4 separate regions of the Homo sapiens genome follow, and all the other regions are linked to region 3. Evidence: fine-mapped expression QTL. A gene starts in region 3. Each other region holds a variant in brackets. All regions are shown on one strand. Distances are from middle to middle. Region 1 overlaps LOC105378825 (a long non-coding RNA gene). Region 2 has its middle 64 kb from the start of LINC02795. Region 3 holds the start of ODF2L (outer dense fiber of sperm tails 2 like). Region 4 overlaps CLCA2 (chloride channel accessory 2).

What was found. PIP is the estimated chance that this variant, and not a neighbour inherited with it, causes the effect. A credible set is the group of variants that fine-mapping cannot tell apart.
Region 1: its variant is the best candidate, but not a certain one, in a credible set for the expression of ODF2L in whole blood (TOPMed, PIP 0.75).
Region 2: its variant is the best candidate, but not a certain one, in a credible set for the expression of ODF2L in whole blood (TOPMed, PIP 0.62).
Region 4: its variant is the best candidate, but not a certain one, in a credible set for the expression of ODF2L in sigmoid colon (GTEx, PIP 0.63).

The regions. Positions count from the first base shown.
Region 1 is chr1:86,323,989-86,329,143 of GRCh38, forward strand. The region is part of intron 2 of LOC105378825 (a long non-coding RNA gene); the gene reads right to left. Among named protein-coding and RNA genes, the nearest start is that of LINC02795, 7.0 kb to the left of the region's middle. The variant T/C (reference allele first, on the strand shown) is at 2,709.
Region 2 is chr1:86,252,978-86,258,132 of GRCh38, forward strand. No RefSeq gene overlaps it. Among named protein-coding and RNA genes, the nearest start is that of LINC02795, 64 kb to the right of the region's middle. The variant G/A (reference allele first, on the strand shown) is at 2,297.
Region 3 is chr1:86,394,141-86,399,295 of GRCh38, forward strand. ODF2L (outer dense fiber of sperm tails 2 like) reads right to left here and starts at 2,183. Exons shown (of 17, transcript NM_001366781.1): 1 at 1,893-2,183. RefSeq lists an enhancer at 2,108-2,157.
Region 4 is chr1:86,427,888-86,433,042 of GRCh38, forward strand. It overlaps CLCA2 (chloride channel accessory 2), which reads left to right. Exons shown (of 14, transcript NM_006536.7): 3 at 531-681; 4 at 2,975-3,083; 5 at 4,482-4,641. Among named protein-coding and RNA genes, the nearest start is that of CLCA2, 6.3 kb to the left of the region's middle. The variant A/G (reference allele first, on the strand shown) is at 2,383.

The DNA of each region.
Region 1 (5,155 bases), 70 kb before region 3:
TGGCTTAAAACAACAAACATTTACTATTGAGGGTTAGGAATCTGAAAGGGGCACCACTAGGTGGCTTTGTCTCAGGGTCTCTTGTGAGATGGCCATCATCTGAAGGGACCACAGAGTCAGCTTCCAAGCTCCTGTTGGCAGGAGGCTCCAGTTTTGTACGATGTGGACCTTTCCATAGAGCTGCTCACATAACATGGTAGCTGACTTCCCCAGAGCAAAGAATCAGAGAGAGAGCACCCCAGCATATGTAACCTTTTATAACTTCAGAAGCAACAACCCTCACTTCTGCCACTTCCTATTGGTCACAGAAACTGACCCTGGTAGAGAGTGGAAGAGGAACTACACAAGGCGGAGAAGGAGGTGGGGATCATTGTGGGCCGTCTTAGACACTGTTCATCACAATTTGGAATATGAAGACCACTGTCATGCTTATTGCCAAATTTTTTTCCTGAGTCAGTAACTCATGCAGCCAAGAGTAACAGAAACCCAGCAAATGGTCATTTAAACAAGGAAGAGGAGTGTATATTTTATGCCATAAGAAGTCCCGAGTAGGAGGTCCACAGTTAGTACAGTAGGTCAAGAGCACCTTCAAAGAGTCTTCTGGCTTCTCAGCTCCACCACCTGGGGTGAATGAAGCAGCACTTCCAGAGCATACTAGAAAGAGACTGTGTGGTATCAGTGACTTTCTCTTTACATCTCATTGGCCAGAACCTTGTCAAGCAACTTTTATTTGTAAGGCAAACTGGGGAACTTTTAGATATTCCAACCTCTATAATAGATGACAGCAGGGAAAAACAAGGAAAACAGGTGTTGACTGAGGGCACAGTATGTGTCACGTTTCCTAAGTTCAGCTTTTGAACACCACATTTTTGGGAGGGTGGATCATAATACAATCATTTATTGGAGCTATACTGTAACACAAGAGAAGTACAGGGCCCTGTACATAGCAGGTCCTTATTATTTCTTGAATGAATGTATTATATACTAGTGTTTAATATATCTTATAAGCATTAGCCTTATACAAGCATTTCCTAAAATGACTTTGTATTGTGTTTGTATTAATTGGGAAAAACAGATTTTCCATTACTATGAAATGAAAATAGTAAAAAGCATAATAATTCTACGTGCCTTACTTTTTCTTAATTTCTAGATTTCTGTTCCAGGTTTTGATCTGTGCAGGAAACACTGAGCCCATTTACACTTCAGCTCTGTGATTCCTCTGCTTCCCCCTGTGCCCCCAAACCTTCTCCTCCTATCCTACAGCCCTGCCTCACACAGAAATTCTTTTTATTTCATTGTTCTTCTTGGTTCAGAATTTGCTTTTTTAAAATAAGATAAAAAAGACAAAGTGATAGGGCAAGTTGATTACATATATTCCCCTTAGAAAAAAAAAATTGATGTTATAAGAAACTAACTTTGTAAAAGGGACAACCCAAAAAACAAATTGCATTCTGAAAATACCAGGAAATGCCAACATAGCATTTTTGTACTTCAAAAAAAAGTCTTCAACTTTTATGCCAAAACAGACTTCAAAATTGAAGCTGTTAAAAATACACACTTAATTTAGTAGCTTTTAATTCACAGGGCTTTTTCATGGGTGGAGTTGCTAAGTGGTGAGTTGATTTTTGCCACAGAGGAGAAGACTGCCTCCATAAAATCAGACTTTTACTAAGAATAGACTTGTGGGCCACAGGATAATTAAAAAGTGCTTGGCATAATTGAAGTTCTGGTGAGGAAATGATTAAAGTCATGGTTTGCATGTTGGGTGTATACAAACTACTTTAAAGCTTGGATATTGGAATGTGTAGCCTTCAAAGGATCATATTAAGATGAATAACATTTAAAATACCATTGATAAACTATATTTTTCATTTTTAAATAGAACTAGGATCACTAAAATTACATATTGAAATTATATATTGATTTGACATGAATAGTGAAACTTGCTATATCTATTAGAAATATAGAAAAGCATGTTTTTAAAAGTGTAGCTTATGTTCTTATTCAAAACAATGAAAAAAAAGTTTACTTGGCCATTTTAGCAACGATAAGACAATCTTAGTGCTGCTAAAATTAAAAGGTTCAAACATTTTCAATACTATTCAGTATCTCTAGGTTAGTGAGTTATCAAAATTTAAAGGTATTGATACTTAGTTCTTGTTACTTGTAAGAGAACTAGATACTGTTTCTCCCCCGGGCTAAATTATTTAAAGTTAAAGAATTAGGCCTTCTTTAAAGGTTAAGCAATATGATTAAGCAACAATGAATAGTGCTTAATTTGGACAATGGGATCTGGGATGAGAAGCAGCTGAAGTAATATTTTCACATCATATTCTTTGGTATTCTTTGAATTTATTTTTAATTTAAAAATTACTACTTTTGTAATTAAATTATTAATGATAAACTGAAGTTGAAAACTTTATAAGATCAAAATCCCTAAAGAAACAAAAATATAAAGCATGAAAAATAATTGCCTTTATTGAAACTTGAAAAGTAGCCTTATATGTGATATGAATAAATAAGTTTCAAAACAGTAAGATCCAATCCTAAGATTTTATTAAGCCCAAATTGGAAAACTTTTAGATTACATATTATTTTTTGCTGTAGATTTTTTAGAAAAAAATCTATCCTAATAAATCAGGAAACCACAAATCCCTCTTCATTAAATACCAATGACTCTTGAGTATTTGGAAGGAAATACTGCCTTC[T/C]TTAGCTCTTTCACAATAATTCTGAAGTAACATTAACGTGCTTTTTTAACAGTCAAGTTCCTGGTATAAATGTGCATCCCTTCTTACGATTTACAGGGGATGTTTTAATTTGTCAATGAAAGAAATTTATAATAAATAACATAAATTTCAAATTTGGCTAATACTTTCTACAATCCCTTAAATGATTTAGGGTTTGTTTGGAATTTTTTTGTATGATTAACTTAGAGCCTCATCTAATTTCAAAGCTATTATGATTATGAGAAACTAGTGTAGGCACTTGTTTAGAACTGCAAAGGTTGACAGTGTTCTGAGTCTGTCCTAAATATGATTTTAAAATATGATAAATATTTACATCATTATGTAAATAATATAGACACTGGAAATAAAATTAACACATGAGCAACAATGCAGTAACAAAGAACACAGAAAAATTCTGTGACTTGTTAAATCAAACATCACATTCGTTCCCCAATAAACACACACAAATACACTGGAAAATAATTAGACAAACCCATAAGTTAAAATCAGACAAAAATATAAGCAAAATAATAATTTTCTTTTTCCTAATTAAAAAAAATAAAAGGAATCTGAAACAAAATTGGTCTCCCTCGACCCCACTTTTTCCTCGTGTATTTTAGTTGATGGCACTAACTGGTACCTGATCAGCAATCTGTGCATCCCTCCCAACAAAAGCCAATGAGTCACCAAGTCATGTGGATTTCATGTTATCAAATTTCATGACTTTATCCCCTTTTCGCTATTCCTACTATTGCTACCCTCCTTGTTGTTTACTAGACTATGACACAGTCACCTATTGGGTCTCCCAGCCTCCAGTGTTCCTTCTCCCTCTTCACCCATTCTCATCCTTCCCAACAACATAGTGATATTTCATGGTCACCAGAGTTATCTACATAAATGAAAATTTGACCACATATGTCCCTGTTTGGACAGAATTCTAGAAAAGATGGTGTCAGGCACATTTTCTCTTTCAAAAATTCTACTTTGACAAGGAGAGAATAGACAGACAGTAAAATATCTGGATCTTAAGTCAGATGATTTAATGACATTGATCCAGTGACGATAATGTTTAAAGGGACCTCTGGGATAAAAAAGGATCCAGGGAAACACAGCATAAACGCTTAACGCCACCCACAAAAGAAAAAGAATTTGAAGGCCTCAAACATTTCTTCCGTGGGTGTCAGAAGACAGGAAGTAACATCTACAGAGCTTTGAAGGAAACAGTTGTAACTCCAAGATTTTCTTCCCACTAAAGTTTCTGCTCAGGTTTCCACATGTAAATGAAGGCAAGAAGGAAATCATGAATATGAGAACCCTAAATATATTCCAAATACAGATAATTACTGAATAAAATGTTTAAAGCATATCCTAGAAAAATTAAAGGTAAAACAAAAATAACAATTGAGTGTTGATACCAAAAAGAACATGACATCAGCTAACAATATAATTATAAATTTAAATGATTATTTTATACATGGTTACAACCTTAATTTTTATTATTATCATTTTTAATAATAATTTAGCACATTCGTAGGTTATATAGTGATATTTCCATACATATAATATATAGTGATCAGATCAGGGTAATTAGCATATTGATCATCTCAAACATTGATCATTTGTTTGTGTTGGCAACATTCAATATCCTTTTAACTATTTGAAAGTATATATTAATATTTATTTTTATAAAAATAATAGAGAATTTTTAATCTCAGACTGGGAAGAAAAGATGGGAAAGTATCAAGTTCTTTATCTCCAGGAGAAAGTACTGAAACAAAATAACAAAGAACAATAGAAACAATGAAATTGGCACAATTTATCATACAAATATGAAGAAAAAAATATTTAGAGGTTGCAAAAGTATATAGAATAAAAATACTAGATATATAAGGAAAAATGGGCAGAAACACACTCTCTGTAGGAGAATTTACAGTATTAATCTATAATAGGTAAAATAGACACAATAAAGAAGATATAGAAAATTAATAATGGAGTAGAGAAAGATACTTAATAAATTCCCAACAGCAGAAATTATGAAGACCATATTTTTACTACACAATAGTTTACCCTTATCCTCAAGGGATACATTTTAAGACCCCCAGTGGATGCCCAAAACTGAGGACAGTACCAAACTTTATATATACTGTATTAGTCTGTTCTCACATTGCTATAAAGAAATACCTGAGACTGGGTGAAGAAAAGAGGTTTAATTGGCTTATGGTTCCACAGGTTGTGCAAGAAGCATGGCAGCATCTGCCTTGTAGGAGGCCTAGGGGAGCTTTTACTCCTGGCAGAAGGCAAAGCAGGAGCAGGTGTCTTACATGTTACAGGAGCAGGACCAAGGTTGGGGGAGGTGCCACACACTTTTCAATGATGAGATCTCACGAGAACTCGCCTGCTATCACAGAACTAGCACCTAGAGGGACAGT
Region 2 (5,155 bases), 140 kb before region 3:
ATGTAAAATATTCAGCAAAGGCAAATATAGAGAGACAGGAAGCAGATTAGTGGTTACCTAGGCAGAGATCAATTTCAAACAGACACGAGGAAATTTTTGTGGTAATGAATATGTTTTGAATTTAAATCTGGATTGCAGTGATGGTTGTACATCTCTATAAATTTACAAAAAAAATCATTGAATTATACACTTACAGTGGGTGAATTTTAGGATATATAAATTATATATCCCTAACATTATTTTTTTAAATAGTAAAAGAAAAATCATTTAATATTTCTTAGCTATGACAAAGCTGAAATTTTCTGGACTTCTTCCAATTTATTGAACACTAAATAAAGTGGCAGGTACTGTTTAGATCTTTATGAAAATTGTTTTTATTTACTTATCACAATAACTCTCTGAGGTAGGAATTATTTTCCCATTTTACAGATGAAGGAACAGCCAAAAATCCAGCCAGCAAAAATCCAGGGTCACTCAGCTAGTAATCTGAAGAGCAGGAATTTAAACCCCTACTTGTCTGGTGGCAAGATCCAGGCTCTAATGACTATGACTTGGTGTCTTGTTTGTCAACTTCTAAGCAAATTAATTCTGACTTTGTCTCATATATGAAATAGACTAACTCCCTCCAGTTCCTTCCTTTAAGATTTTTGTGGGCATGTGAGTTTATTTTCCTCCTTCCTGCCTGCGTCATTTTCTTTTCCATCTATTTCTGTGCTTCAGTTTTGTAAAATTTTCAGCTGTGTTTCAGATGTGTTCTAATCTTCACTTGCATCAGGTAACTGCAGCAGGCTTGACATCTTGCATTAACAAAGCAGAAGACTCCAGGCTATGAGGGAAACTTCTTTCTTATTGTTTGGAAAAGCCAGTTTTCCATAGTTTAAATTTTGCATTAACAGTAGGCCTATTGAGTCCACTTAATATGGCAACTTTTTGGATAAATGCAAATTGATTGTACAGTACATATTACAGAAACACATCTGTCTCTAAATGGGTTCACATGAGACATAGTTTATTCCACAGGTTAACTTTCTAAATTAAATCCTTCTCTAAAGTCAGAACACTAAGAAGAACCAGACTTCATAAATGAATAATGAATTTTTTCATTAGTAACAAAAACAGCTTAAAGTTGAAAGGTCTACTGGGTAGGTCTGAAATGTGGGAACAATTCGTAATTGAGGACCTAATGTTCCACTGAAAAAAATTCTCTTTGAGGTATCATCAGACAAACTTAAAAATTCTCCACCACTGGCCATTTCCAAGTAAAGATGCCAGTTTGATCACACATTTTAAACATGTGTCTGGAGAATTTTATGTAGCTTCTTTTACAAACTTAAAGACAAATATATTCTCTGTTACCAGAGAAAATTGGTCTTTTGGGAGGATTTAGAAATGGAAAAAATGTAGAAAATAATCCACAAATAAATACTGGGGCAGTTTCTATTTGTACCTATGCCTGCACTAGTTACATGTTAGGCTCTTTTGAAGACTATACACACGTTATGCATAAACACATTCTAGAAGAAAGGTAAGAAGAAAAAAATCATGACCAGAAGTTGATATAATAAGAAATCTAGGCCTTTTCACTGCGTATTTGTTGCTAAAGATTATCTTCAGGTAAGACCACCATGTAGCGAACCAGGCCCCATAAAAGACCATATTCATGGCCACTTAATGGGAAAATAAACCACAATGGTGTTGTTGTAGCACAACTGTAACCAGAGATGTATATCTCTATTCAGATAGAAGAGGTGCTTATTAATTTTTGCTTTAATTATTAGATAATTCCTTGGTTTCCATTCTGTTTTTACTTAAAACCCATTATAATCATCTTTTGAACATATTTGTCTAAGGGTTTACATTAATTTTCCTCTTTCAGAGAACAGGGAATCCAAAAACAACAATCTTAGCTGTTGTTGGAAAATAAAAGTGACCGCTGGGACTGTGAACCAGAGGTACAGGAGCTGGTCCATGACCCAGACCACAGGTTGGCAGTGGCAAAGGGCCTTCATCCTGCAGGTCCACGCCTATGGCCCTAGCACCACCGCTTCTGGAGAAGGATGGGCAGGAATGAGGCAGTGATTGGTCCTTCTGGCACTGTCCTAGGTAGATACTGTTTTCAATGTTGTCTGGACCATCTGGAGGCAGGGGTGGTGGGCACAGACTACAGGGGAAGAATTCTGTTAGAGCCTGCATTGTGAGATAATTCTCCCCTACTCTAGACTAGTGAAAGAGGAATGGAGGATGTGGGCTCCAGGACAGTTTGGTTCTTTCTTGATCAGCACCCCAGAGTCTGAGT[G/A]TCTAGAGGGGCTAAGTGTGCGTCTGTCCTAGTGTGAAAGCCTAAAGTAACGCTATATACATCTCAGTGTGTTTTTCCCACCATGACCTGCAAAGTGGTTACAACTGTTAATATCCACATTTACAGATGATGCTTCTGAGTCACAGAGGGGGCAAGATGCCTGCCACGAGATGACGAAGCTAGGATAGAACCCTGTCTCTTCACCCCCACTCTAATGACCCCTATATTAAACCACACTGACTCTCTGAAATCAGTATTGCAAGAGGTGTTTACTATTCTTTCAAATGTAGTCATGGGAAGGAGACGGGACTCTAGTTAAGATAAGAAGAATCCTGTTGTAGCAGCAGCATACAAAACCCAACTCTGTACAGATGGTTTTAGCATTTCCCCTCGTATTCTTTCCCTGTTCTTTTTCTTGGTTGGTATCTCACTGTGTGTGTCCTTGGAGACCAAGGTAGAACTGCCAATTGCCACTCTGGCTGAGGGGCTCCATGGTTTCCATGCAGAGGTAGGGGTTATAACTCCACATTTGAAATTTAGTTTGGATTGAATTTTGGGCCACAGTTCTTATATCCAAAAAGAAAAAAAAAATTCTTTGCGAGGATAATTTTTTAAAGTTTTCAAGTTTAGGAAAAAAGTCACAAGTCCAAATTATAAATTATTATTATTATTATTATTATTATTATTTACTTTAGCCATATGTTACTACATGGAGAAATTATGATTATTTTTGGTTATGTTCATAAACATCTTTTTTCAAAGATTATTATTCTAATAACACAGGTCATGACTGTGGGAGCATTGTCAGGAACTGCTCTTCAGGAAACTGCTGAAAATGTGATATGGACATAGAGGAGCTCACATTTCAAGAGTATCTGTATTGTACTATTTTCCCAAAATATCTTCAAGGGACTAACCTGTCCTCTATCCATCTCCTTAGTGGGATTTTGCATACAAGAGGCTCTTGGGAGTGCACATAGTGATAACTACCTAAACAGAGCTTTCAATATTAATCATTGTTTTATAACATTTTGAAGCTTGAAAAAATGTTATGTATATATGCTATATATTAAAATGCTATATATAGATATATAGCATTTTTCAATGCTGTTTATTAAAAGCCATATATACACATGCATTTAAATGGCTTTTATTATCCTTGTTATATGCAGGAGAACTGAGGCTCAGCAAAGCAACTTGTCAGACTCTCACATAGCTACTAAGGGACAGAAGCAACTCACAAGTACAAGCTATATTCATGACATCCAAATGTGTCTCACAAATAATTCTTTATAAAATACAGTCTCTCATTAGTTAGATCTCTTTATTTGGATATGCAGTGCCATGTGGTACTAAAGCTGTTGAATTTGCCCTGTGCTGGATTTGGTACCGCCTGTAAGATGGAATGCAGATATTTCCCATCATGTCACAGTACCTGGGATGGGTTCTGTGACTTAATTTGGTGAAGTTATCATTCACCAAATTAAGATAGGTAAAAATATTGAATTGTACTTAAATATCTATTTCTCTAGTCTTCAACATGCCCTAATTTGCTGCTGAGAATGAGAAATGAATCAGAAATGAAGAATCAAAATTGTCTACCACCTGCTTCTCTCAAGTCTGCTGTGAGACTAGCACAAAGACAAGCTACTTTCACTCTAGCCTATTTTCTGTGAGTTAGAGGCAATTTACAGGTTCCCCTTCCTGCATCATCTTAGAACTTTACTCAAAATTTTTCACATAGCATATTTCGTATTCTATTATGATTTTTGTTTATACTATATTTCCCCACTATATTACGGCCCCTTCTGTAACAGAGACTCTTTATCATCTGAACAGCACAGCCCATGGTGCAGAGTGTAGACTTCACTGAGCATTCATTGAATAAGCATGACATAGGGAGATGCACCATATGAATAAATTCAGGGACTATGGAACATTTGCACTAAAGCATCCCCATGTGGCAGGAATCTGTCAGATTAGAGAGGTGTGCTGGTTAGATCCACTGCCTAATCTGTTTTTGGCTAGGAGAAAATGTTCTAGATAGATAAATGATACTTCTCTCCATTTAAGTTTTCCTTTTCATGTCAAAGAGAGTCTTTGTTTATAGATACGATGCTACCTTTCCATTAACTGGAGGGCAGGCACACATCTGTTTTTCCAAGAGTGGGAATGAACTGAATCAAACTATTTACATTTTCTTACCTTTCTCCTACCTGATAGCATTATTTACAGGCTGATAATCCCAGAGTAAAAGTGTAATTTGAGGTTAGCAAGCAAAAAAAAATGCTTATGATGAAAAGACTCCATCCAAATCAGGCTCAAGGACAGTGAAATACCTGTTACAGATGAGCATTAAAAGAAAAGGCTGTCACCATGATGACCAAAGATGGGCTAGTCTTTGGTCTCCAACGTGGATCTCCAATATTGTGAGTAAGAGGCTGGGATACAAGTATCTTATTGAAAAATCTAACATTCAGAGCCATTAAGAAGTGGGATGGGTCTGCTTTTCTGACTCCAGAGCCCATCACTAGCACTTCTACAGCACTTGCTGTTTTTAAAACACACACGTTTTCTTAATTAATCCCCATGGAGGAAGCGTAACACAGCTGTTAATGGTTCATGGTACAGGCTTTAAGTCAGATTGCCCTGGGTTAGAATCCCGGCTTCCACGTAACTTCTAGGTTACCTTGGGCAAAATTTAACTTCTCTGAACACCAGTTTCCATCCATAATGAAGATATAATAATAGTGCCTACCTCGAGGGTTGTTAAGATTAAATGAGATAATTACATAAAATATCTGGCCAAGGTGCCTAGCATCTAACAAGTGCCCAATAAAAGTCAGCTGTAAATGATGT
Region 3 (5,155 bases):
AAGTAAATTAAATCTTAGAAGGGTTAAATAGCTTGTCCAAGATTACAAGTAAGGAATTGGTGGAACTCAGTTTTGAATTAAAAGCCATGAGATGGTGAAACCGCATCTCTACTAAAAATACAAAAATTAGCTAGGCGTGGTGGTGGGCACCTGTAGTCCCAGCTACTCGAGAGGCTGAGGCAGGAGAATCACTTGAACCCGGGAGGCGGACGTTGCAGTGAGCCGAGATCGCGCCACTGCACTCCACTGCGGCAGAGCGAGACTCCATCTCAAAAAAAAAAAAAAGCCATGAGATACTAAAACATAAATATAAAAATCTACAAAGCAAAAAGTAACACACAAACTTGCCTTTATTCAGTCAGGTTTTAATACTCATAAGTTCAATTTAGATTCAAAAGATGAAAACTGTTCTGGACAAGGAAATGAGTGATGAATGAGCTAGCTAAAAGCACAGACTACAATTCTAAAGAGAGAGAGCAGACCGCGACCAGATCACTAAATTCCATTGTTCTAAAGTTTGTCACAAGGAACTTTTGGGATAGAAAAACTACACTATAAATACACATCCATTGTGAAATAAGAAGATGAAAAAGAGAAGCAAAAAGCAAATCATAAACATGATCATGACATTCTTACTATAAGCAGAATATCAAACTAATTTCAAAAGCAGACAGGTTTTCTGCAGTTTGTTTCTTTTTCCTTTTTTTTTTTTTTTTTTGAGACAGAGTCTCGCGCTGTCGCCCAGGCTGGAGTGCAGTGGCGCGATCTCGGCTCACGGCAAGCTCCGCCTCCTGGGTTCACGCCATTCTCCTGCCTCAGCCTCCCGAGTAGCTGGGACTACGGGCGCCCGCCACCACGCCCGGATAACTTTTTGTATTTGTTTTAGTAGAGACGGGGTTTCACCGTGTTGGCCAGGATGGTCTCGATCTCCTAACCTCGTGATCCGCCCGCCTCGGCCTCCCAAAGTGCTGGGATTACAGGCGTGAGCCACCGCGCCCGGCCCGGTTTGTTTCTTTAACCTTAACTCAGTTGCACTTAAAACTCCAAGAACCTCATTCATTCAAAAACACTTGAAACCGTACTATGCGTTGCGTGATGAGGAAACTGTCTTCGAAATAGATTTTATCCCCAACAGCAGCCCCAGTATGGTTATTCTCAGTAAACAACAAGCACCACCACTCACTAACCACCTACATTCGGTGCCACCTTAATGGCCCTGCGTTTACTTAATCTCGTATTACAACCACCCCAAAGTGATGATTACTGTTACAGTTATCAGTAAGGAATCCAGGAAGGTTCAGTGACCTAGACAAGGCCACACAGCGGGTTCAGTGGCAGAGCTGGGACTGAACACAAGTCGGCCTTTAGCACTCTCCACGACCCTAGGTCAATCCCGCACTACAGGGGTCGCCTATAGGGGCTGGAACCTAGAGGAATCCTGGAGAAGGAATTATTTCCTGAGGATTCCTGTAATATACCTCACTTACGAAGCCCCCAGGGCTTCCTACAATCTGATATATCACATGATGGGCGATTAAAAACCAGCCCAATGATTAAGAGGTCACTATTTCTGAAAGAAATGCAACCATATCCAGGAACGGCCCGGTCAGGACTTCGTTCTGCACAAGCCCACCTCACGCTAACATTTGCCCTGATGTCCCGGGGACCACACCCTTCCTAAGAGTGAGTCTCGCCGCCCTTTTCCCAGGCCAGGTAGTCAGCCTGAGGGAGGTGGAGGGTTTGCGCGGAGGGGGCTGGGTGGGCGCGAGGGCCTTTTACTTCCGGGACCCACCACTGCCCTCACCTCCAGACCGCTAAGGGCTCCCGCGGTAAACGCCCAGCAGCAGCTAGGCTCCCCACAAAGTCGCCCCCAACCCAAAAGGCGTACTTACGCCCCCGCCGCTGCGTCCGCACGTCGTCGTGACGACAGCCCGCCGTCGCCGCGATATAAAAAAAGGGTCAGAGGCGCCACGGCTGCTGCAATGGAAACCGTGGCAATCCTTCTTGTGCTCTGAGTCGGCTAGGAGGGAGCGGGACGCAGGGGGCACTACAGTGGGTAGACTAGGAAGGAAGGCAAGGGACGCGAGGTGGGAACCAGGCGAATTCCTAGACCTGCTTGCCGCAGAAGAGTGCCCGCTCAAGTGGAACAAAAGCGCAGCTAGTAACCGGCTAGTGGCTTCTCTGGCAACGGCGGCCCCACCCCTCCCGTCAGGCCCGCAGCAGGCTGCCGATTGGTCCGGGTTAGGGACGGCGGGCAGCGCCTATAGCTATTGGAGAGGGTGAGGAACGGGGCAGGGAGGGCAGCTTCGTGTCTATCCTTGTTTCTCGGGTAAACATTTTTTTTTAAGCGTTTGTTTATGGACAAGGACAGCATTTGTGTACGTTACCGAAAATCATAACCGAGCCCAACTAGAAAAAAAGGAAATAAAGCCAATTCCGAGTTTTCTGGCGCTTGGCCTGGTTGTGCCCTGCTTTTGCTTTTTAAAGAGAAGATTTGAAAACGTGAAGGCAACTGCGACCGGAAGAAACCTCCTTTTAAATGTATAGTAGTATTTTTAGCTGAGATGCCTCCCTGGGCCTCAGGTTTTTTCCTGTTAAATGAGGAAGCCTGAGGATGTTCTGCAAGGTGCCTTCAGGGTCTCAAAGTCTTTCGTATCTGTGCCACAGCCAGCTGGTCTGGTTTATAAAGTCCTGAAGAAGCAAAGCAAGATTTTAATTGGAAAAATATCTTCATTCAATGCCTCTACTTAATATTCATGTTAAGAATCGTACACCAACCTATGAAGTTCACAAGTAGAGTAACTGTCAACTAAGCCATAACCGTGGCATGCTGCTACCTAAATAATTGGTTTCACTAAAGCACTCCAGCAATGTTTTTCCACCAGTACTGTAATTGTCCCTTTCATAATTTAAAGCGGGAGACAGAATTAGTAAATTTTTTAGTAAAGGGCCAGTGATATGGTTAGGCTCTGAGTCCCCGACCACATCCCATCTTGAATTGTAATCCCCATAATCCCCACGTGTCAAGAGAGAAACCAGGTGAAGGTAATTGAATCATGGGGGCAGTTCCATAATCCCCACGTGTCAAGAGAGAGACCAGATGAAGGTAATGGAATCATGGGGGCCGTTTACCCCCATGCTAGTGAGTTCTCAAGCTATCTGATGGTTTTGTAAGGGGCTCTTTCCCCTCCACTGGGCACTTCTCCTTAACGAAGAAGGTGTCCTGCTTCCCCTTCACCTTCCGTCATGATTGTAAGTTTCCTGAGGCCTCCCCAGCGACGCTGAACTGTGAGTCAATTAAACCCCTTTCCTTTATAAATTACCCAGTCTCAGGCAATTCTTTATAGCAGTATGAAAATGTGCTCATACAGCCAGATAATATTTTATTAATAGGTTTTGCAGGTCATATGGTCTCTGTGATACTATTTAACTCTGCCATTGTCTTACCAAGAAAAGCCATAGATGATACATAAACATAAACATATGAGCTCACTAAAGTACGTTTGTGTGCAGGATGCAACACTACAGTGTTGGGTAGAAATTGTGATTTCTATCTTCATGGCAACAAATGGGGACTAGAATGTAAAAATAGCAGGCAATGAAATAGAATAAAGATACTTGAATACAAATAATACTTCAAAATTAAAAAGCAACATTTTAGATAACCTGTTTGCAGAGGACAAACAGAAGGTTAAATGAAAGTGTGATGGAGAATCACCACCTTTACATCTTTGCACTCTTTAATAGTGCCACTAATCACTGGAATTCCCCTAGGACTATGGTATTGCCTTTGGTTTAATCTTTTAGTAGATAAGGGCAGTTCCAAAGGCTTCCACTTTGTCTTCCTATTATAATAGCCATGAGTCAAAAAGCCAATGTCAAGATGCTGTAAATCTCCTTTAAGGTTATGACATTCAGGTCTCTTCATTAGTTCTGGTAAATTTTTTGCTGTACAAATTAAGTAGAATCTTAGCAGACTATCCATTTCAATTATAGGGGCAGTGATTAATTATCAACTCCTAAAGATCCCCCTTAGTCAAACAATATGATACACCCTGCTGGTATCATGGTATCAACAGATATCTCATCTCTGATGGCTCAGTGGTATCACTTGGCCTCTATCACTTTGGGATCTTACTATTTCCATTAGGGAATTAGGGATTTCATGCAATGGCAGCATCTTTATCCCCAGGCTTATAGAATAGCAGCTACAGAGCTTTTAAAGGATTCTGGCATTCCCTATATTTTCTCAATGCTTTAGTAAAAAGAAGGTCCTTTGGCCCTCTCAGAACACCTTTGAAAGGAGATGACTGGGTAACATATGATAAATCCATTCATACAGTACTATTCCCTAAGTCTTCTTTAAAAATTGATACATACTAGATGTACATATTTTCAGGGTACATGTGATAATTGGATACATTTATATGAATGTGTAATGTGTAAAGATCAAATCAAGATAGTCAGGATATCCATCACCTTAAATATTTATCTTTATGCTATGAACATTCAAATTGTTCTCTTCTAGTTATTTTGAAATATACAATAGATTATAGTTAACTATAGTCACCCTACTTATCTGTCAAACACTGGGTCTTATTTCTTCTATCTAACTGTATGTCTGCACTCATTAATCAACCTCTCTTCGTTACCCCTTTCCCTAAGTCTTTTAATTCAATCCTCTAAAATCAAGAGATTTCTAACATCTCAACTTTATTTAGTTTCAATCAACCAACTGAGCAAACCTTGACAGCCACTCCTAGATGTTCAAAGCAAGAACAGTGAATTATGGTCTCTGGTAAATGTATTCATATTAATATCTTGGTCTCATCAAAAATATTCCTTCATCCCTGGTCTGCCACACTTGGAATTCATTATCATTTTCTATAGTCTTCTGCCAATATAAATAAGCAAAATCTTGCACTTTTTTGGTATGAAACCCTTCTCCCAGGTCAGATCTTTTATTATACCCTGGAACATGTTGGGATCTAACTTTAGATCTAGACCAGTGGTTCTTGACATTTTTTTTGCCACAGCCAAAGAGGAAGGGCAAGTGTCCTACTGGCATCTAGTGAGTAGAGGCTAGAGATGCTGTTAAACATCTGCAATGCACGGGACATCCTCCACAACAAAATGTCAACAGTGCTGACATTAA
Region 4 (5,155 bases), 34 kb after region 3:
TGGTTACAGGAAAGAAAGGACAAATTTTCAAAGAAATAATGTTCTATTGTCTTACACCAATAAAATAACCCACAGAAAGTTGTTCACAAAAGGCTGTAACATTTTACAGCCTTCTGAATGGTTCTGAACGATGTATAAATGCTTTTAGAATTTCTTCAAATATTTTAATTGCATTTTATAGTGTTTTGTTATATCAGACTTTTACAGGATTGACTTTTGAGAATATTTTAATCTGGAATGTGGAAAGATCAAATGGAAGTAATTAGGTTCCATAAAAATTTGCTAAGCTTTCATAACATAGACCTTTTTGGAAATCCCAAGTGATTTTATTGATATGTAGCTGTGGGTGCATTTTAAACTCCATCCACAAGGTGTTTTTCTTCAATTTTGTTTTTAAATTGGGTTATAATTACATACAATAAAATGCACACATCTTAAGTGTACAGTTCAAAGTGCTTTAATGAATGTATACATTTATGTCACCAACAACAGAGCTGAGAAAGTATTACAAGGCATTTCTTTTAATTTAGGCAAATGTCATAGTGACTGACTGGTATGGGGCACATGGAGATGATCCATACACCCTACAATACAGAGGGTGTGGAAAAGAGGGAAAATACATTCATTTCACACCTAATTTCCTACTGAATGATAACTTAACAGCTGGCTACGGATCACGAGGTAAGTGGGACCAATAAAACAATAGCCATTGGACAATACTACTTATAATATTCTGTGCTTGGTGCTGAAAGGGACTCACTCACAAAACCTGAAACTTGTCAAGGACTTACCACTCAAAGGGGGAGATAGGTCATATGCCCATGCAAAGATGAGGGGCTAAAGTGAACTCGAAAGAGTTTAGCACCAGATTAGTGGCCCAGAGAGGAGTGCTATAAGAATTCAATCAAGGAAACGTCATTTAGAGTCAAGGGTGGTCAGAAATGTCCTCACAAAGGAAAAGGTCTTCAAGATTGAACATCATTTTGATAAATGGAAAGAAGGGAGAAAATAGTGGGAAGACTATGAAGAAAACTGTGGCAGCAGAAAAATTAAAGGCATATAGGAGAGACAGAGACCCTGATGATGGTGCAGGGAGACTGTGGGCAGTGGGAGAAAACGTTGAAACATACATGAGGGCCAGGTGATGCACTAAAATGGCCACATTTTCAAGTCACCACTCAAGGTTTCTAAGCACAGGAGTGACTCCATCAAAGCAGTGTTTTAAGATTAATCTGGCTTCCTCTGATCAATGAAGGAGAAACTGGATATCAGGAGAATAACTGGGAGAAGTCGAGGTATGAGGCCACAAGACTTAAAAATGGGTGGAGACAGTGAGATGGGAAGGATAGTAATAAGGACACTGAGGATTTCCTATGCGCTAGCCGCTCTGTGGTTTCCTTTTCAAATGTTATCGTACTTAATTCTAGCAACTCTAAGCGATGAGAAATACTCCAGAGATAAAAAACAAAAAGAGGTCTGAACTGCTGCAGAAGGAAAGGCAAGAGGCACGTGGAGACAGCATTAAGGAACAAGGCACACACCAGGTTTTTGTCAGACATGGAAAAAACCAGCTTCAAGAAGAAATCCCACAAGTCTGGATCTAGGCAAATTCATTGTGAAGAGCAATAGACTATGCCAGGGAAAGTGGTTCAGCCTGTGGTTAGATATTGATGGCTGGAGTTTGGGAGAGAAGTCAGGGTCATAGGCCTAGAGACTGGTATTTAGTGAGTGAGATCTGAGGGAGAAAATAGTAAGCACAGTTCGCCAGTCAAGGACTATCTATCCCAATCTTTATTTTTTGTTTTTGATTTAATGTAACAGTAGTGCCTTTCAAGTGATGTCTTAATTTTCTTTTTTATCCCTAGTTAAATCTAAACTAGGGTTTTGTTAACAAGGATTTTGTTATCCTCTGTATAGTTAGCAGGAAGTGGAGTGAAACACTCCATAAAATACACTTTACAAAACACTTTATAAATCTTTAGAAAAACGTAGTTTTTTTTCTTTCCTGGTAACCTTGAGATGCTGATAATCTCTGCTCAAGCATGATTTCATCAGCACTTCTAAATTTCATGAGTAGGCACAATCTTTCCCTCAACACTCACAGCTTGGACTGCTACCCTCCCTTCCTTTGCCTCGAGGTCCAAAAATTACACAATATGCCACAGCCTGAGTCAACTCAGCACACACTTCCTGAGTTCCCGGAACTTAAAATAATTCAGAAAAAAGAAATGTGTGCTTTGGGAGGGGAGTTCATCTGGAAAGCTTATATGGGAAAGCTGTGGTCTGAACTTTGAAGGGAATGTAAGATTTTGAGAGAGAGGAAGTTCTAAAGGATCTCATGCAGAGGATGGGGGTTTCCCTGACCTAGGAGCTGTAAAATAC[A/G]CATAAACATGGAGAATAAGGGATAAAATAAAAGAGAAGGGACCATCCAGGCTGGGGAGAACATTCTGCAGTCTCCTTTTTTGCTCCTTCCTCCTTCCCTAGCTCCTAGGTTTCAACTATTGCTCTAGATAGAAGAATTACCTGCAAGAAAAAAAGCAGGTCTGCTTGGATAGCTCAGACAGAAGATTAGGAAAGCTTTATTTGCCTATCTGGATATGCTTCTTTCCCTTTCTCCAAACCCTGAACTTAGAGGCCTCTACAAAGCTGAATAGAAACCTGTTGGGCAGCTTCACTGGGGAGATGAGAGGATGTGGGACTACTCACTAGCTTCAAATAGATGTGCAACAAGTAAATTACTGCATTTACAAGACCAAACATATTTTCATGCTGCCTTTTTTATGGTGGTAGGTGGTGGAGTAGGAGGAGATGGGAATAGGATAGGGGAGAGGAAAAGGGGAGAGAGGGAAGTAACTTAAACTCTTTGGTCATTCCAAAGAGTATGTGTGGTCAAGAAATGTTACGTCTTCACTAGTTAGCAAGGCACATTGCTGAGATTTTAGAAGCTCAAAAGCAAAAGTTCTTTCTTCCGCAGGCCGAGTGTTTGTCCATGAATGGGCCCACCTCCGTTGGGGTGTGTTCGATGAGTATAACAATGACAAACCTTTCTACATAAATGGGCAAAATCAAATTAAAGTGACAAGGTTAGTACTTTTTTTCATGTTATAATTCATTATTTATTTGACTCTAAAATTGCTTATAACTTAAGCAATTAAATAATTGCCTAATTTAAGCAATTAATTTAATTGCAGCTAAAACTTAGCTGATAAGAAAGAGATCCTTTCACTTTTCAGTTCTTAAGTTATATGACATTTTTCTTTAAATTGGTATTTATGTGGTTCAAATATCAAAACAATATAAAAAGTCATGCTTGTACCTGTCTTGCTTGCAGCACTATCTTCACTGTTTCCCCTCATGCCCTCTAAGTAACCACTTTGATTAGTTTCTTGTTTATTTTTTCAATATTTCTTCAGGCAAATTCAAATGAATAGAAACATATGTTTTTCCTCGCTCTGTGTTTTATAATTGCATAGTGTTCCATTATGTGACTATACCATAATTTATTCAACCAGTCTCCTCTTGGTGGACACACAGGTTGTTTCCCATCTTTTGTATTATCAGTAACACGCAGTTCATAGCATTACACATGTGTCATTTCTCATACGTGCAGACAGATTAACATATCAAATTCTTCCAACAATTACTGAGTCAAAGGGTGATTTTGGTAGCTATTGACTGATTCTTCTCCTACAATTGCCACTGTTTTACATTCCTATCAACAACATTTGAGATCGCTTGTTTAGGAAAGAATCCTGTTAAATATCATCATTACATGTTCATTATCTTTTTTTCCCCTGATACCAAGTGGAAATGAACTCAAAGGAGCACTGACCCAGGATCTTGCCACTCATGTCCTTCCTTGGGCTTCCCAAAGTCCATCTGGATTTCCTAGTATCTTTTGCTTTGACCCTATTTAGTTGTTAAAGCCCTTGTTAATACAGAACCCCTCCATCAAGATAAAATGCTTTAAAATAAAATAGAGTGCATTTCTAAATCAGTGAACTTTCTTAATGAAGCAGTTTTTTGTTTGTTTTTGTTGTTTGTTTGTTTTTTTGTTTGTTTTTTGAGACGGAGTTTCGCTCCTGTCGCCCAGGCTGGAGTGCAATGGCACGATTTCGGCTCACTGAAACTTCTGCCACCTGGGTTCAAGCAATTCTCCTGCGTCAGCCTCCTCAGTAGCTAGGATTACAGGTGCCCAACACCACGCCTGGCTAATTTTTGTATTTTTAGTAGAGACAGGGTTTCACCATGTTGGCTAGGCTGGTCTTAAACTCTTGACCTCAGGTGATCCACCAGCCTCAGCCTCCCAAAGTAATGGGATTACAGGTGTGAGCCACAGCACCCCGCCAGTAGAGCAGTTTTTAAAGTTTTGTATATATCTAGCAGGCTACAATCCTTGTAATAATTATATAAGCTAGTCAACAAGAAACATAAGTGTTTCTAAAATAGACCTAATTCCCAGTTTCTCTTTCCATTTTTAGGTGTTCATCTGACATCACAGGCATTTTTGTGTGTGAAAAAGGTCCTTGCCCCCAAGAAAACTGTATTATTAGTAAGCTTTTTAAAGAAGGATGCACCTTTATCTACAATAGCACCCAAAATGCAACTGCATCAATAATGTTCATGCAAAGTTTATCTTCTGTAAGTATGCCCTTGGAATGACACACTCTTGCAGGATTCCTTCTCTTCCCATGTTTCAAGTATTTAAATTATAAGATAATTAAGATGCACTATACTTTAGAACTTGGGGGACCCTAGAGTTCATCTAGTTTTTATCTACAGATTTAAAAATTGGAACCCCCAAGATAATTACCCAAATGATACCTTCAGGAAAGTGACTATTTGCTTTCCTGGGAGGTTTAACAAAGGGACTCTGGGGACCACAAAATAAACTGTTCTTATGGTGGTGTTCTTGTATTCTTTCATAAGAAATTACATTGGGTTAATGAGAGTGATATAACAAATGGTTATAATTCTCTCGTTTGAAGTAGCAGACCACTCTGTATTTGAAATGCCTTTCCTCAATCTCTTTCCTTTGTTTTGAATAGTCTAGAACTTAACAGTAAGGTATCACCAGGAGAAGTCAACCAACTCTGCTTTGCAGAAACCCAACCTTGTCAATATTCCATGCTAACTAACTGACAAGAGACTAGCA